Linked DNA regions of Homo sapiens: region 2 is linked to region 1. Evidence: fine-mapped expression QTL. A gene starts in region 1. The other region holds a variant in brackets. All regions are shown on one strand. Distances are between the middles of the regions. Region 1 holds the start of PPIC (peptidylprolyl isomerase C). Region 2 has its middle 20 kb from the start of PRDM6.

Evidence for each region. PIP is the estimated chance that this variant, and not a neighbour inherited with it, causes the effect.
Region 2: its variant is fine-mapped to the expression of PPIC in tibial nerve (GTEx, PIP 0.98).

What each region holds. Positions count from the first base shown.
Region 1 is chr5:123,032,658-123,040,657 of GRCh38, reverse strand. It overlaps PPIC (peptidylprolyl isomerase C), which reads left to right and starts at 3,933. Exons shown (of 5, transcript NM_000943.5): 1 at 3,933-4,149. The coding sequence starts at 4,033. PPIC-AS1 (PPIC antisense RNA 1) reads right to left here and starts at 4,736. Exons shown (of 2, transcript XR_001742868.2): 1 at 4,370-4,736. RefSeq lists silencers at 3,707-3,756, 5,065-5,237.
Region 2 is chr5:123,063,211-123,074,749 of GRCh38, reverse strand. It overlaps the pseudogene RN7SL711P. Among named protein-coding and RNA genes, the nearest start is that of PRDM6, 20 kb to the left of the region's middle. The variant T/C (reference allele first, on the strand shown) is at 4,923.

The DNA of each region.
Region 1 (8,000 bases):
AACAGAATAGAGAATTTGAATAATCTCCAACTATTTTAAAAGTTAAATATATAATTTAGAATGTTACAATAAAGAAAACTCCAGGCTCAGATGGCTTCTAAGAAACATTCAAGGAAGAAATGGTAATCTTACACAAACCCTTTAAGAGTAGGGGAAAAACAGCTACCATTTGCCAACTCATATTAAGAGGCCAGAACAACTCTAATACAAAAGCTGAGAGGAAACTCCAATAAAGGAAAATTTCAGGCTAGTCTCATTCAAGAATTTAGATGCAAATATCCTGAAAATAAGATTAGCAGATTTACCCACTAACACTGAAATGACATGTGGGTGACGAACTCAGTCTCAGCTGGACAGCCAGAGCCACATTTTACCCACTCTTTTCTTCCTGAACTTCAGAAGATAGTCTATATTCAGTTTTTGGCAACTTTGTTAATAAACTGATATTGCCAAACCACATCTAGTAATATATAAAAAGGATAATCCATGTTGGACACATTCCAGAATGTAAGCTTGGGTTAAGATTTGAAAATCAATGCAATTCATCACATTAACAGAGTAAGAGAATCACATAATTATTTCAATTGATTTCAATAGATGATGTTAATAAAATTTAAATCAAATATATGCTAAAAACTCTTAGCAAACAAGGACTAGAAAGGAATTTTCTGAATCTGAAAAAAGATATCCCCCAAAAGGACCTTCAGCAAATATCATGCCTAATGGTGAAACACTGAAGCTTTCCCTCTGACACTGGGACCAAGACAAGGTGTATGAGCCCCCTAGGGCTGCTGTAACAAAGTGCCACAAACTGGGTGACTTCAAACAAGAGAAATGCATTGTCTCACAGTTCTGGAAACTAGCAGCTGAGATCAAGGTGTTGGCAAGGCCATGCTGTCTTTGAAGGCTCTAGGGGCAAATCCTTCCTTGCCTCTTCCTAGCTTCTGGGGGTTGCCAGCAATCTTTGGCATCCCTTGTCTTGTAGATACAGCACTCCAATCTCTGCCTCCATCCTCATATGGTGTTCTCTGTGCGTGTGTCTGTGTCTGTTCCCTTTTTATGAGGACACAAGTCATATTAGAGTAGGGCAAACCCTACTCCAGTATGATTTCATCTTAACTTGATTACGTCTGCAAAGGCAGTCCAAATAAGGTCACATTCACAGATACCAAGGTTTAGGACTTCAATATATCTTTTTGGAGGATAATTCAGTCTACAATACAAGGACTCCCACTGTTGCCACTTCCTTTTGTACTGCAGATCCCAGCCAGTGTAAAAAGGCCAAAAAAGAAATACAAAATGTAAAGATTAGAAAAGAAGAAATAAAACTGTCATTATTCATGGATGACATAATTGTCTATGGAGAAAATCCTAAACAATTCACAGATAAATTATTAGAATATGTTTAACAAGGTTGGTATATACAAAGTTAATATATAAATTAATTTTACTACAATACATGACAATAGCATAAAAAAACACTTAGAAATCAAACTAATAAAATACGTGTAAGACCTCTGGGCAGAAAGCTATAAAATCTTATTGAGAGAAACCAAAGAAGACTTAAATATGCTATGTTCATGAATTAGAAGACTCAATATTGTAAATTTGCCAAGTCTTAAATGGTCTACAGATGCAGTGCAATCCCCATCAAAATCTCAGTGTGTGGAAACTGACAGGCTGATTCTCAAGTTATATGGACATGGAAAAGCTCAAGAACAGCCAAGAATTTGTTGAACAAAGCTAAGAGGGTATGTATTACTGAATATGAAGAGTTATTATAAAGCTATTTTAATGAAGACAATGTAGTATTGGCACAAAGACAGACAAATAGGCCAATGGGACAGATAGGGTGCCCACAAACACACCTATGCATACATGGGCACTTGCTCTGTGACAGAAGAACAGTATGGAGCGGTGAGTTAAAGGGGAGAATTTTCAATAAACTGTACTGAAATAAATGAATATTCTTATGAAAAAAATGAATTTGCTTCCTACTTTGTATTAGCCACCAAAATAGTTATATGCAAAAATATAGATGAATTTCACAAAAATTTAAGCAAAAAGAAATACATACGGTAATACCCTATTCAAATAAAATTAAAACAAAATTAAACTATAGTACAAGAAAAGTCAGGATTGCAGTTAATTTGGGCAGAAAAAAGTGTTTGTAACTGGCAGAGGGTATAAGAGGAGTTTCTAGGGAGCTGGGAAAGATTTCATTTCTTTGCCTAGAGGGTGAGATGGTGGTAGCATAAAAAGTAGTTGGACACATTCATTCATTCAACAAATAGTTATTGAGAAATCACTATATATCAGGCATTGCACTAGATCTGGGTCATCAAAGGGGAATAAATATAGGCCTGATCCCTGCCCTGGCCCTGCTTACTTCTGATAGCAGACAGACAAAAACAATTAATGAACACAGATAAATATATACAATCACCTCACAGTCACCTCGTAGGGTAAGTGCTCTGAGAGATACCCTTGTCTTGCTACACAAGGGGGACTCTTTCCTTATTGGGGGTGGGGATGAAGAGGAAAGCCATTAGGTCTTTCACTGGACTGAATCATAAAAATAGCTCAGAATTGCATTTCTCCTTTTTCTCACCCCAAAGAAGTAGTGGTTACTCCTTTTATCTCTAATGGTTCCAATGTCATTTTAGATCTACACTTAGGTACACCTAGGAATCCCATCTGACATTTAGAAATTCCATCTCTTAATCCGAGGAAAATCTTGGCTTGAAAGTAATGGCACCAGCCCCTTAAAATGGCACCTATGTGCGAATACCACTAATTTTTAGTTAATTTTAGGGCTGTTACTCTAAAACAAAAAAGTTCTTTTGAAATTCTAATTCAAAAAGCAATGAGTTTTAAAATAACCCTTTCCATGTTATAAAATACTTATATGCTCATTGTAGAACATCTGGGAAATCAGAAAACTGTAAAAAAAATTTTTTTAAACCCTCAAAAATCCATAAGTCTATCAATAGCTATCAATTCTATCTATAGCTACTGTAAACGTTGTGGTACATCTCTTTCAATATTTAAGTGCCTTGATATATTTATTTTCACGGTTGAGATCAGAATTTGTGGTTTTGCAACCCGAATTTTCCATTTAAAAATATAATAAGAACTTACTTCCCCAGTCATTAATCTTCCTAAACATAATTCTTAAGTTTGTAAAAAATCCATCCTACAGATACACCTAAAAGTCAGTTTATTTACTTTGTTTCCCCAGGAAAGAATCCTACATGACCATGGTTCTGGGCCTGTGTAAGTGCTGCCTTGTGAACAGTGTAGATAAGATCACAGAATCATCCTCCAAATAAAGTACTTAAAGCCAATGTAAAAGTTTTTCGAAGGCAAAGGGGCACTGTGAATCCAGCATTTTCCAGTGTTCCCTAGACGTGAATCATCTCAAAGAGAGGCCATTATTCGAGTGCAACAGGGCTCCACGCCTCCAGCGATGTCAAAGTTCTGCTAAGCGTCCAAAACCTAGCAAAAGGTTCCAATGGGCCATTGGAACTCGGCGGCCGCGGCGGAGGCTGCTCCCAAGGCGGCAGCAATCACACCGGGACCGGCTGCAGAGTTCCCAGTCCCGCGGAGCGCTAGCTGCCGGGCGGACGCGGAAGCCCGAGAGTCCTGGTCTTCCCGTCCAAGTTTAATCCGCGCCTACGCGGTAAATTCCTGGAGGTGCTCCCAGCCTAGCCCGCTGCGCCCGGCTCCGCGCCTGGGCAACCCGGGCTCCCTCCCGTCCCTGGCGCCCTCCGCACCCGCCTAAGGCGCGGCGGTCGAGCCCTGGCTGCGCCCTGTGGGCGCGCTCCTCCGAATCCCAAGTTCGGGTCGCGAGTCTGAACTTGGGAGGAACGCGCCCCGGGTCCCCGCCCTTCCCGGACTGCCCGATCCCCATCCCCCGCAACCGGGAGCGCGCAGGCGCAGCCGGCCGGCAGTCCCGTCAGCTGTCCCAGAGCCTGTGTCGCGCCCGTGCCGGTAGCGCCCGTGCCGGTAGCGCCGCTGCCACCGCTCACCATGGGCCCGGGTCCTCGGCTGCTGCTACCTCTCGTGCTTTGCGTGGGGCTCGGCGCACTTGTGTTTTCTTCGGGGGCCGAGGGCTTCCGCAAGCGAGGCCCCTCGGTGACGGCCAAGGTGACCGAGAGCGGCGGGCTGCAACTTCCCCTGTTGCGGGCGGGGCCCTGGGGGCGCTTTGGATACTGGGACCTCGGTGTCAGGGCGGGCGAGGTGGAGGCTTCCCGGGCGCAGGGGGACTGGAGGCGGCCGCGGGACTGGGTGGGAGGGGGCTGCTCGCGTGCTGGGAGGCCGGCGCTCCGGGGGAGACCCTGGGGGAGCTGGGCTGAGGCCAGCCTACCTCCGCCGCAGTCTGCTTGGACTTCTTGTCCCGGGTCGGTAGTCCGAGGTGACCAGCCTGGGGGTAGGAGAGGCTTCCGGAACCGGCGGGCCCGTTCTCCAGGAAAGAGACTGCCCAAGTACTTCCTTCAGCGTGGCCTGGGCTCGGGAGCAGAACGAGAGGAATGCGGGGAGGGGGGCGGGACCCGCACAGGAGAGGCGCTCGGAGCCCAGGGCTTGCAGCCGCCCGCCCGCTGCGTGGTCTCCACGCTGGCCGCGGTGGCTTCAGGCAGGCATTAAAGCGCCTGGTTCAGATGAGAGACTACCCTCCGCCTCTTTTGGGGAACCGTCGTCCTTCCCGGGAAGGGGAGGTGCGCCTTCAACTTCGGCGGGCGGGCGGCCCCTGCTGTGGGCTACGCGAGGCCGGGCGAAGGCGGCACCTGTAGACCTGGGGCAGCCTCCACTGCGGGGAAAGGGGGCGGGGGGCTGCCAGAAAGTGCGTCTTTAAGGCTTCCTCGTACTTAACTCCGCTTCAGTTCTTTTTTCAGCGTATTTAACCAAGGGTAGACGATAATGGGAGAATGCAGGGAGAGGGAGGGGATAATTTGGTGCCCATGATCACCACTTCTAGAAAACCCACTGGCAATAGTGTCTTCGAAGCTGAAGCTGGAGGGGGCGGGCTGCAGCTGAAAGTGGTCTTCATCAGTCTGGGGTTTGTCAATGGAAACGATACTAATCAACGAGTAGAATGCTTACATCCTCGACCGCAGACGCCACCTGAGGACGGGGAGGACTAGGGGGTGGGGAGGAGGAGGTCCAGCTCAGCATCTGATGTCGCAGAAAGGCCGTGCCACGTTGTGGGCGGGGCTGATAAACAGCCTGATGGTTTCGAGAAGCTCTGATCTTACTCCCAGCCTCTTGATCTTGTAGGCATGTCTAACTTTGGGAAATGGTTTGTGCAAGGCCACAGAGCTGAACGGGGTCTCTTGGGATAAAGCCATAAACATAAAATTCGCACAATTATGAAATGTTGGAGGAAATAAACTGTAATATACTTTGGGTGACATTTAAAAATAGCTGAAAAATGAGAAAAACCAGCGCAGAGAAGACTAAGGAGGCAAAGGGAACTGCATATGCATAGGTCCTCAAACAGGAAAGCCCTCCCTGCATTCAGAGGATGTGGAGAGGACGGAATGGCTTCAGCACAGAATGAGAGGTGACTTGAGATGAGGTTGGAGGGGTGAGCAGCAGCGGAATCACACAGGGCCTTAGAGGCTGCAGGTAGGCATGCGGGTATTGAGGCAATTCTTAAAATTTGAAGTGTTATTCTGCAGTCAGAGCCACTGAAGGGTTTTAAGCATAAGAATGGCATGATCTCAATATATACTCGAGAAATTTATGTGGTCACTCAGTGGAGAGTGAAATGGGAGGTCATTCAGGGCACCATGCCAGAGTCCAGATGGTGGCTTGGATTAGGGTGGTAATCATTGAAATGGGGAGCAAGGGAAGGACTTGAAATAGATTTTGGAGATATAACTAACAGGAGTTGCTGACGGTTTAGAAAGGGGGCGAGGGAGAGGGAATAGGATTGCCAAATAAAATACAGGATGCCCAGTTAGATGTGAATATCAGATTAACAATGAATAAATGTTTTTAGTGTAAGTACGTCCCCTGCAATATTTGGGAACAGGTTTCACCTGGGAAACTTCTTAAACTTACTGATGCAGTGACCCACCCCAGAGCAAGTCAATCACAATCTGTATGGGTGGGGCTCAGTATCCTATCTTTTAGAAGCTTTTGGTGATTCTGATGTGCAGGCAGTGTGGGCGGGGAACCACTGGAAGATGGAGCCAAGAGAGGAGGAAGCTGGTGGCTGCAGGAGGGGAAGGGTTTGAGCATCCTAAACCCTTGTCTGTGACACTGTCACTGAGGGAGAGTTTGCATGCACCCTACTCTCAGAATTGTTACTTAACATGTCTTTTTTCCCCCTACCAAATTTGTCATTAAGTTTTTCTAAAAGCTGATTGTGTAGGTGCGTCTTAAACAGATTCTGCTCTGTTAAATTACTTTTTCATGAACTTGTAAAGACAACTAAATCTATTGGAAAATGACGTTAAAAATAATTTCTCTGAGTGCAGACAAGTACATTAATTGGCCATTGCTCTAGTGTATTGTTTTCCCCAGCAGTGTTTTTGTTTACCTCTGATTTCATTTAAAAATAGGAATCTGTAAATAAGAGAGGTGTGAGGTGCTATTCTGCCCACATGGCCCATTAGTGGCACTAACTTGGTCCACAGATCCTGCTGCTGGGCCAGCCTGGCAGCTTCCTGCCCCAGCCATAGAGGCTCAGGTGGGGGCTCTGGCTCATTGGGCTCCAAATCCACAGAATTACATTTGCTGACCTATATTTCTGAACCAATGCCATGGGATCTGTGCAGGATCCGGCATCGGGAGTGTATGAAATAATGCCACCATCCTTCCAGCTGCACACATATTACAGCTTGCAAGCACATTAGCATGTAGTGGCCAGGAGGCTGTGGCTAGATGGCCTTAGACAAGTTATCTAATGTCCACAGCTCAGTTTCCTCCTTTGTCAAATGGAGATAGAAATCATCCCTACCTGGGAGGGCTTTGCACATTAGATGTGGTAAAGCAGATGTCTTAGTCCATTTATGTTGCTATAAAAGAATACTTGAGGCTGGGCAATTTATGAAGAAAAAAGGTTTATTTAGCTCACGGCTCTGCTATGAGCTGTAAGATTCAAGACTGGGCATCTGGTGACAGCCTCAGGCTGCTTCCAGTCACGGCGGCGGAAGGTGATAGGGAGCAGGCAGGTGCAGATCACGTGGAGAGAGAGGAAGCTGAAGGGGGTGGTGCCAGCTTCCTTTTAAAACCAGTTCTCATGGGAACTAACAAAGTGAGAACCCATTCACTACTGAGATGGCACCAAGCCATTCATGAGGGATCTACACCCATGACTCAAACACCTCGCATTAGGCCCCACCTCCAACATTAGGATCAAATATCCAAACCATAGCAGCAGGTAAAGCACATAGTCCATAGTCCCTGATTTCAGAAGTCACTTGTTAGTGTTATTTGTGTTTATCTTCTTAATCCTACTGTGACAGAGCAGACCTGAAAGGAATCATCATTTATTTTACAGATGAAGAAAGGGAGTTCAGAGTTTAATTAACTTGCTGAAGTTTCCATGGCCATTGAGTGGTGGAGCTGCATTTGAGAACAGTTTCTTCCACATCGCAGCTCATGTACTGGGTGTGTTCCCTAGTTACTTTGGAAATGGAATCAGGATTAATTCCACAGGGGTTTGGGTCAGGCTGTGTAAGTGCCTCCTCCCTCTTCCTCTACCTCCTCCCATCTCCAATGCCGAGTAATTTTCAAATGACTTTCAAGGGCAGCCTTGAGGGAAAAAACAAGTGACTGAGGTGCTCACCCCAAAGTCTAGCATGGAATCCAATATCACCTTTCCCAGGAAGCCCACACTTATCTCCACAGATAATCACCACCCCTTACCATGACACCTTATCTGTACTTGTCTTATAAAATCTGACTTCTCATTATATTATAGCATTCATATATGTGTTTTCTGTTGGACTGAAGCTCCTTGAGGGTAGGAGCTTTGTAGCCCCACCCCA
Region 2 (11,539 bases), 32 kb before region 1:
ACTGCACTCCAGCCTGGGCAACACAGCGAGACTCTGTCTCAAAAACAAAAACAAAAGCCCATAAAGTTCTGGAGAACAGGGATACAGGAATTGTGACTTACCCTTATTTTCATATACCCCTCATACACCACTCAGTTCCTGACATGCCACTAGGCACATGGAGGCTCTCATCAAATACTTGTTAAATCATCAATAAATGAATGATTGAGTGCATTAGTGAATGAATGAATGAACAAGGGTACACATAAATAAATGAACAAATGAATGAATGCATTTACCCCAAATTCCTACCACATGGAGGTTTGTCACAGACAAAACCCAGAGAGTCAAAGCCAACAGGAGGCTTGTAGTTCAGAGACTATGACAGGGCTAGAGGGTGGAGCTGGCAACCTAGAGAGTTTGAGTCCACCTGCCCTCTGTGTTTTAAGAGAGTGCATTCTTGCACCCTGCCTATGTATACAGGGCTCACTGTCTTTCCTGATGCCAGTCATAAATAGCTACACATTGAATTATTTCTGCATTAGTGTCTGTTTATACTCCTAAGTCCTTTCTGAAGCTAAGGGTTTCTGCCCGTGAGACCCCCATGGAGCCCTCACACAGCTCTTTGGAGTCATTGAACTATACGTTCATAAACAGTTCTTCCAATGAAGGAAGGAAAATTAAGAGATTCTTCCTCTCAGATGGAATGAACTGATAAAATTACTACATTACCATTATCTCTTGCAAGTCTTCCCTATGGTCTAATAATTTCCATTCAGACTTTGTAAGCACAAGCCAGAAGTGTGTGGTCCATTTTCTCTTTAATAAGAAATGCCAGCACACGTCTGTGGACTCGCAGAATGCACTCATATCTCACACAGGAGCAACGCCAGGACATTCTAAATGAGCTCCATGGTGTGTAATCATGGGGCCAAGAAATGAAAGTATAAAACATTATGTGATCTGATCGACACAAACGAAAGAAATGGGAACTTGGCTGGTCCTAGCAAAGCCCCAGATAACCTGAGAGAATAATCAAATTAATTTTGAACTACATGGCTTTCATGAATTCTACATGGAATACAGAGTTTGGAAATAACGTAAGCTACATCAGCTCCTGGAAGAATGGAGGAAACTTTTATTTATTTAATACACTCAATTTCCAGATTTCTGAGTCAAACATGAACAAATATACACACTCAGAAGGGAAAGCTTCACCACTGGATGTTATGGGATTGGAGTGGAGTGGGGAATATGGTAGACCAGGGCAGATGGAAGTTTAATGAAGAAAGAAATGAGTGGTGACAAAAATCAAAGAACTCCTCTCACTTATCCAAAGGAACAGAATGCCAGGGGCTGGGAAACTTCAGTGTGCCTACCATTCCCATGGCCTCCCTTGTGAGGAGTTTGTTACCAGCAGGTGTAACATATAAGTGTATCATTTAAAACCAGTACACTGGCCACAGCTAAGTTGACCAAGAATGGGAGGTTAACCCAATCACAACTATCTACACATGACTAGGTGACCTTGTCTAAGATCTCTGCCTAGAGGCAAACTCTGTGCTGGCGGGGATTGACTGACCAATCAGATTTTTTCTCTTGGGTAATGTGATTTGGGGATAGAGTCTCTGGGTCCATAAGAGCAGGTTCTTTGGAAGAAGAAAGCAAGAAGTTGACGCACCTCATAGTAGCACAGTAGAAAAGTGAGGCATAGAAAGATGCCAGCTCTTGAAGAAACAATAAGGTGTCCCATTCTCTAGAGTTGTTTCTTAAAAGACATTTTAGCCTCGGTGGGGCAGGGCTGTTTAAGGCATCCTAAATGAGTGTCCTTCTTTTCCATCTGAAGTACCAACAAACATGCTACATAACTGTTCCCCATCTAGGGTCTTTGAGACGGATAGAGGCTATTCAAGCATCTATGAGCTTGACAGAAAGAAAGTCTTTAATGGTCCTTCTGACATTTTCTTGTTTTTATTTTAGCCTCAGATTTAAAAAAAAATGAGCTGAAATTCTTCATCCTCACCTCTTTGTCTGTATTGAAATGCAATACATATTATATAATATTCAGGGTAGACCTCTACCATCAAAATTAAATTAATGGTGGGCAAAATGAGAGATTTGAGAAAGGAGAATGTGTGTCTTTAGAATTCCATATGGTAGCCTAGAGAGAAGAGGGAAGCATTCTAAAGTAGGTTAGCACATCCAATTACCTAGCAAAGTTAAGAGGGAGTTTTCTATAAACAATTCCCCTGAAAAACTAGGATTAGAAATGCTTAAAGCTTGCTTGCTCAAAAATGATAACGATCCAATATTTGTGATTCCAAAGTTCTAAGTATTGAAAGCTCAGATTGAGGCATGCTGGTTTTAATGATCCATATTTTATCCTAGACTTGGGTCATGAATTACTCACAATTTCTCTTCGTAGAGCACACTTATACTCTTCATGGATCAAGAGCTTCATTAGACTATTTTCTTACTATAAAAACTAGCACAGTTTCACCAGATAGCAGGGCAGTGTGTTGATCCTGCATGGAATCTGAGCTGTAATCTCATCTGACATGTGTTAAGGCATTTCCATCCATGTTTAGGAGGTGCTTCTATAGCTGAATATGTACATGGAATCTAGAAGCTTCGAATCACATTTAATGTGAAGTTCACACTCTCTTTGTTATAAGGTCCACAGAGTAGCCACAGCTTTAGATAGAAGGATGAGCCACATGCTAACATATTAGAACAGGTACCAGCAGAGGTTACCAAGGCAATATTAGGAAAAAATATGTAATTCCATGTGGCAATCTAGAGAGAAAAAGGAAACATTCTAAAGTAGATTAGCACATCCAATTAGTAAAGGAGGTGAAATTTGTCTCTTTCTCACATATGGTGTTCCCTCATTCAACAAACATGTGGTTGAGTACCATCTCTGTGCCTGGCACTCTGAGATACAGGGTCACCAAGATGAATAGGAGCAGCACTTGCTCAAAGGTGTGCACAGTCTAGTGACTATCAAGGGTAGACTGCACAACAGTATCTGGACGGGTCCTTCACCAAGTCAGGAAAATTAAGTAATGTACAAGGTATCTGGCTCATGCTAGATGTGGGGTTTCCCCCCTAGTTTTATTGAGGTATAATTGACAAATAAAACTTGTATATATTTAAGGTGTACAATGTGATGATCAGATATATGTATACCTCGTCAAGTGATTACCACCATCAAGCTAATTAACACTTTCATTGTCTCACAAGTAACCTTTCTTGTGTGTGGTGAAAACAAAACATGGCTTTTTTAAATGACAAGAATATATTGCATTTTAGAAAATGTAAAATTTTTTAAAGTTAGGGAAAAGGAAAGAGAAGACTTCACAGTTTAGGATCTGGCAAAAACAAGGTGAGAGCAAAATGCATAAAGACATATTAATCTTCCAAATTCCTTAACATCCCACTTTGCCCTAGACAATTCCAGTTTCAGCTATTATACCAAGGTAATTATTAATTAATCAATAATTATTAATTTTTAGAGACAGGGTCTCATTCTGTCGCCCAGGCTAGAATACAGTGGCATGACCATAGCGCACCATAACCTCATAACGTGGGCTCAAGCCATCCTCCCACCTCAGCCTCCCCGGTAGCTAGGAAGGACAACAAGCATATGTCACCACATCTGGCTAAGTATTTTTATTTTTTTTATATTTTAGAGATGCAGTCTTGCTATGGTGCCCAGGCTGGAGTGAAATGGTTATTCACAGGCACAATCCCACTACTGATCAGCGCGGGAGTTTTGGCCTGTTCTGTTTCCCAACTGGGCTGCTTCTCCCCTCCTTAGACAACTTGGGAGCCCCCTGCTCCTTGGAGGTCACCATATTGTTGCCGAACTTAGTGTGGATACCCGATCAACAAAGTGCACTATAGCCCAGAACTCCTGGACTCAAGCGATCCTCCCACCTCAGCCTCCCGAGTAGCTGGGACTACAGGCACACACTACCACACCCGGTGAGTTTTTTTGTTTTCTTTTGTTTCTTTCTTGTAGAGACAAGAGTCTTGCTATGTTGCTCAGGCTGGTCTCAAACTTCTGGCCTCAAGCTATCCTATCCTCTCACCTCAGCCTCCCAAGTGCTAGGATTACAGAGGTGAGCCACTGTACTCAGCCGCAATGTAATTACTAACTGCTCTCCTTTCACTCACAAAAACTGTGCCAACTTGACCGTGAATTATATGGTCGCCCAAGTTTGAAGGAATTCTCATGGGCACAACAGAGAAAAAGTTTATGTTTCACACAGGAGCCTAAGCTAGAGGAAGTAGAAAACATCATAGTTGTAGCTCAGCCATTCTCCCTAGAGAACTGCATTTTGTTTGTGTTATTTGCATTTGTTGTGTATCTTTAACATACATGCATGTTGTTAGTCTGCATTACAATTCTCTACAGTGTAGAAGAAAAATTTAATTGGTATTAATACTATATAGTACAATACCCACAAAATACTCACTGATGTATTTAATAATTAGATGATGGGTGTTCTGAATACTTTAATATGATGTGGAAATCCTTGGTGGATTGTTACATAGATGTTTAAGATGTTTGGTGGTGGCTGGGCACGATAGCTCATGCCTGCAATCCCAGCACTTTGGGAGGCTGAGGCGGGCGGATCATTTGAGGTCAGGAGTTAAGACCAGCCTGACAAACATGGTGAAACCCCGTCTCTACTAAAATACAAAAAAATTAGCCAGGCATGGTGGTGAGCACCTGTAATCCCAGCTACTCGGGAGGCTGAGACAGGAGAATCACTTGAACCCAGGAGGCGGAGGCTGCAGTGAGCCAAGATGATGCCACTGCACTCCAGCCTGGGCAACAGAGTGAGACTCCATCAAAAAAAAAAAAAAAAGAAAAAAGAGACGTTTGGTGATAATTGGACCAAATTGATTGCAATTTATTTTTGAATAAGCCCATT[T/C]CAATAATGCTCTATCTGGCACATTTTCAGGAATAAATTAAATTGATAATGGGGATATTACCTCATTGGGTTGTGAAGATGAACTAGAACAAGCATGTATAAAGCATGTGGCCCACAGTGGATGCCCTCCCCTGAAGCAGAAGTGAAAACATTGGTGTGTAGAGAGTAGGAATTTCAGCCCCCAAGCCCAGTGTGCAAGAACGATTACTTCCTTTATGGGTCCTATGGGCTAAAATTAAGGTGTCAGTAGAGCTGGTTCCTTCTGGAAGCTCTAGAGGAGAATGCGTTTAACTTGCTTTTCCCACCCTCTAGAGGCCACCTGCACTCCTTGGCTGGAACCCCTCAAGCCAGCAGGGCAGCATCATCACGACTCCTTCACTGATTCTGCTCTCCAGCCTCCCTCCTATAAGGGGCGTTGGAATCACATCAGGTCCATCTGGGTATTCCAGGATACTTCCCCACCTCAAGATCTTTCACGTAATCACATCTGTAAAGTCTCTTTTTGCCACATAAGGTAACACAGTTCTGAGAATTAGAACGTGAACGTTTTGGGGGGACCATTTGTCCTTGCACCTCCCACACACCCGTTTACTCCCTGGGGCCTCACTGCATCCAGGATCTACTGGAAAGCATGGTGAAGGCCCCTTTTGGACCTCCACTTCTGTCTGCATTCACACCCATGTACCTCCTTAATTCTACCCCACCGTGACCCAGGAAAATCTTTTTCACGTTTAGAGGAAAGCTCCTCCCTCTCCCAAACATTCTGTTCAAACCCAGAATCTATTGTGTCCCTAAAGATATAGGCATTTAGAGCACAAAACAAGTAACTTACCATCTGCTTTTGCTTTTTGGCCAGTTTGCTGTCTTCTCCTGAGATTATGGATGACTGCCAACTATCTGATTGAAAGGAAGGAGGCAAAGAGGGGAAATATGGGAAGAGAAAAGTCTGTAAATTACCATCTCAAAGTATTGTCCAGTCACATTTGCAAAAGAACATCCAACCTTCTGAGGGCCAAACATAAAGGATGTCAGGGAGGGTCCCAGAGGAAATCTCTTCCTTCCTCTGGTGTCTTCTCATCCTTATTTCCACTGTAGCCACCCCCTCACTTGGCTCTGGGAGCATCCTGCCTCCCCACTACCAAATATTGCCCAGAACCCTTTTCTGTATTCTCCCTAGCATACCTGAGACAGACTGGTGTTTTCACAAAGAGCAGTACTCAGTGCCAAGACAGACAAAAAGGAAATTGTTACTCAAAATACAAACACCATAAAAATTATTAAGACTTCCTTAGAGAATTGTCTGGCCCAAGATCATACTCTCTGGCCAAGGAGGCTGTTCCAGCTAGTAGTGTGTCTGGCTTTCTCCCTTACTCTCACTCCCACTGACACCTGCATCTTACCTTTTACTCCAAAGCAGGTGCCACGTTATTCTCTGACACAGGGCAGCACATCAGTCAACTACTCTTCCTCCTGGCCCAAGTTAAATAGCGCCCACATTCTCACACCTGCCATTGTCCCTGCCGTTCAGCCTGGCTTGTCATCTGAGCGACTTCCCCAGCCTAAGGACAGCACCACCATGATGGACAAATGGATAATCTCACCCTTTGCATCTTAGGTTATCCATTCCGCCCATGGAACTCACCTCCTGTGGTAATTTCTATATCTACTCATAGATAAAGATAACTCCACACCACACCACACACGCGCGCGTGCGCGCGCGCGCGCGCACACACACACACACACACACACAGAGCTCTACAATATCAAAGAATCTCAAGAATGTGATAACTACATTTTTCTTGCATAACTATACAGTTATGGAGCAAGAAGGTAAATTTTCCAAAGGCACACTGTGGAATTTTAGGAGGAGAAAATATAATTTCTTTAAAAAAAAAAAAAAAAGAAATACAGCAACCCAATAAAAAATGAGCAAAGGGCTTAAATAGACATTTTCCCTAAAGAAGATACACACATGGCCAACAAGCACATGAGAAGATAATCAACATTAGTCAACAGGGAAATGCAAATCAAAACTACAATGCAATGAGATAGAACTTCACAAGCACTAGGATGGCTATAATTTTTTAAACACACAAAATGCAAAGTAACAAGTTGGTGAGCCTTAGAGAAATTGGAACCCTCATCCATTTCTGGTGGGAATGTAAAATGGTGTAGCTACTATGGAATATAGGCTGGTGGTCCCTCAAAAAGTTAAAGATAGAATTACCAAATGACTCAGAAACTCTACCCCAGGACTCTACCCAGAAGAACAAAAAACAGGCACTCAAATACTTGTATATAGCAGCACTGTTGACAATAACCAAAAACTAGAAACAATCCAGATGTTCATCACTGGACAAAGAAAGTGTGATATGTACACATGTATAAAATAGAATATTACTCACTCATAAAAAGAAATGAAGTACTGATACATGCTACCGTGTAGATGAGCCTTGAAAACCTTCTGCTAAGTAAAGGAATCCGGATGCAAAAGGTCACATATTATATAATTCCATTTTTATGAAATATCCAGAAAAGGCAAAACCATAGAAACAGAAAGCAGATTTGTGATTACCAGGGGCCAGAGAAAGGGGATGGGGAGATGACTATTTAATGGGTATGGAGTTTTCTTTAGGGATGATGAAAATGTTTTGGAGCTAGATAGAGGTCATGAATGCACAATATTGTGAATATACTAAATGTCACTGGATTGTACATTTTACAATGGTTAATTTTATGTTATGTGAATTTCATCTCAGTCTTTTTTAAAAAGGGGAAAATTACAGAACTAGGAGTAAGAGGACCAGACATTGAGTCCTGACTTTAGTGCTTATTAGCCACTTCACTATAGGCAAGCAATTTAAATTCCAAGTCTCAATTTCCTCATCGCAAAGCAAGACTAATAATATTTGTACCACTTGCTTCATATGATTATTGTAGGAAAAAGATGAGATATTGTTTGGTATAATTATGTCATGTAAAAGTGATATAAAATGCTAGATATTATCATTATTGAGCTAATAGTCATTAAAATGTATACTCAGTAAGAAAACTGAAAGCTCCCTTTCATACTTTTACAAAATCCAAGTTGTGATAAGTGTACTCACAACTGCCTATTTTGTTCATTTTCTCTTGAGACATGATCTCACTCTGTCACCCAGGCTGGAGTGCAGTAGCCCAATCATGGCTTACTGCAGCCTCGAACTCCTGAGCTCAAGCGATCTTCCTGCCTCAGCCTCCCAAGTAGGTGGGACTACAGATGTGCACCACCACACCTGGCTAGTTTTATATATATTTGTAGAAACAGGGTCTTGCTATGTTGCCCAGGCTGGTTTTGAACTTCCAAACTCAAGCAATCCTCCTGCCTCAGACTCCCAAAGTGCTGGGATCACAGGCGTGAGCCACAACACCCAGCCACAACTTTCTATTTTTAATTTATATATTGTAATCAAAGGATTGCAATAGATCACTTTTATTCAGACAAGAAGGCAGCATTTAAAAAATTTCATCTATAATGTCAAGTCTCACTGTAGAAGTGATCTTAGGCAAGGAAGATTAAAACATACATCATAAATTCTTTACATATGAGTGACAGAAATGTGAGTCATTTTCTATGCCCAACAGGCACAAGTGACACATGAGTATTTGTGGTGTATAAGTTCTCCTTGAAGCAGGTGATATGGTTTGGCTGTGTCCCCACCCAAATCTCATCCTGAATTTAACTCCCACAATTCCCATGTATTCTGGGAGGGACCCAGTGGGAGGTGATTGAATTATGGGGGTGGGTCTTTCTCATGCTGTTCTTGTGATGGTGAGTGGGTCTCGTGAGATCTGATGGTTTTAAAAAGAGGAGTTCCTCTGCACAAGCTCTCTTTGCCTGCTGCCATCCATGGAAGATTTGACTTGCTCCTTCTTGCCTTCCACCATGATTGTGAGGCCTCCCCAGCCATGTGAAACTGTACGTCCCATAAACCTCTTTCTTTTGTAAATTGCCCAGTCTCAGGTATGTCTTTATCAGTAGTGTGAAAATGGACTAATACAGCAGGTTTTCACAATATTTTCAACAAAGTAATGATAAAAATACAGGGGGATATTAAAACATCTTTAGTTTAAGAAAACATAAATAGGACTTACTCCATGGTTGCAATGGCTTAATGTTTAGTTAGGAAATACTAACAAAAGATCAAGTTTCTCTTTCTCTCTTTGTTTCTTGAATAACATAAGCAGTCTCAAAGAAATTTGGTTATAAAGAAGTAAAGTCTGATGAAATAATTACAGTTTTATAGCATATTTATGAGACTGGTAAGTAGTTACTCTTCTCTGACTTTATATCTCTATACTATCTCTCCAAAGTATGCTAGCTGATAATTTCTTGAAATACTTTTTAGGGTAAAATACAAGAGAGTTGAGGGTTTTATAGGATTTTACAAGTAGTCTAGACTATTCAAATATAAATCCATTTTTCTTGATAATGTCATAGTCATTTCATGCCACTGTAACATTCTTGCCATCTAATAACCAAAGCCTTACTGCACCTGGCAAATTTTTTTTTTTTGGTAACAATTATTCATTTTGTACTATTTGGTAATTAGCAATAAAATTCTTGAACACAGACTAAATATATGCAGTTGTCATGAGTTTCAGGCAAAATTATAATAGTTCAGTCCATTCAGAATATGTAATGTTATTGTTATGATACTGGTTCTGTTTTATTACTAAACACACTACAATTGTCCAGTAGCAAACACGTCAGTCCCCAAAATTCTGTAAATCCATCACGATTCTGGAGTTGGAAGCCAGGGTCAAAACAGGTGGTTGGAAATAACCAAGGAGGGTGAGGGTTGAATTATCTGTTGGGCACAATGTTCACTATTTGGGTAATGGGCACCCCAGAAGCCCAATCACCACCAGTATGTAACACATCCATGTAACAAACATGCACATGTACCCCTGAATCTAAAATAAAATAAAAAATTTAAAAACGGACTTCTTGGAATCCTAAGTAACCAAGGACACCTCATGAACTCCACATCTGGGTTTTTATATACCAAGTTACATATATAAATAGTTCATTTTCCTATTTTTAATTAATCTAAGATGTGTATGCACCAAGAAAGACTGCTTGCAAGCATGGGATATGTTAATACATTTCCCAAAATAACTTAACATTTTAGTTAATATTATTGTAAGTAAATATAATAATTCTATTAGTCTTTTTGGACTATTAAAAATAGTTTTCAGCCCTTTATTACTATGTCCAAGGAATTATATGCATCAGTAACTTGGGTAGTAAACAGAAAAGATCTAACATTATTGAGTACTTATGATATGCTAGATTCTGTCCTAGACACTATGTATATGGTTCTGGCACATATATAAATATAAAAATCTTATTTAATTATCACCAAAATCTTGTGAAGAAGGTGTTATTATCACCTCCTTTTTAGAGATGAAGATACTAAGGCTCACAGAGTTTAAGTAAATTGTCTGAGGTCCCATTGCTAATTGGTCAAATTGTGGCTCAAACCCAGTGCCCTTTGAATTTAAGGACAAGGCTTAAACACCAAAATTAATGACTTAACTAAGGAACCTAGCATCCCAACATCAAGCAAGTCTCCTGGATGTTGAGAATAGAAAACCAGAACCAAGCCTGGATTGCAGGGTGGATGAATGCTCCTCTAACAAGTATTTTCTAAGCAACCGCTATTGGCCTTGCCTTACGGAGTGTGAATGAGACAGACTTGTCCCGTGCCTTCACAGAGCTTAGACTCTAACAGTTTGGTTAAGACACTGAACCAGTGATCAAGTGGCTCTAAAGACCTATAGAAGTGGTGGTGAGAACATGCCACGGGAGAAGAAACTTCTGGCTCTCAACTAGATTTTCAAGATTATGGGGAGGAAGGTGAAAATAAATCCTGTAACAGTGGCAAACAATACATTTAACAAGACGCCTTTGAGTCAACAAGCATGACAGGGCACCAACAAAGTGCAAGGTACCAAGCTGAGCCCTGCTCTTCATAAGATATTCCAATATTTCATGCATCTCCTATTTCATATATACAGGCGTCTCCTAGGGAAAGTTGTATTTTCGCTGAAAGATCACACGTTTTGTTAAAGATTTCATTGGTTATCCCAAAAGTAGCATGGCGATAAGAGTGTCTTCCATGTGGTGAGCCTGGCTGGACTTGAGGACACAAGGGTGGGGTGCTCCAGACCAGATTACATGCAGGCACTAACCACAGAATTGGAGCATTCAGGTCGTGTCTCCCTCCAATGCATCTAACTGTGGAAACTCAATCAGGTCCAGAAATGAATCAATTTCCTTTGCCTGTGTCCTTAAATTTGATGAATAGAGCCTTTGCTTAGAGCTACTGAAGCTGCTATTCATCTCAGTTAGCTGCTAAATAAAACGTTGTTCTTGGATGTAATTCTGGCGAATATGACTTTGGAGATTTTTCATGTAACTGTGTAAGTCCAAGTTATTCCCCAAGTGATCCTACATTCGAGCTATTTTTGTTCCACGTGCTCCATATTTTTTTCCATGTTAGAGACTAGGAATCTAGAAGACCAGGTTTTCTTGTTGGATGGTGAGGAAGATAAATCTGAGTACATGTGCA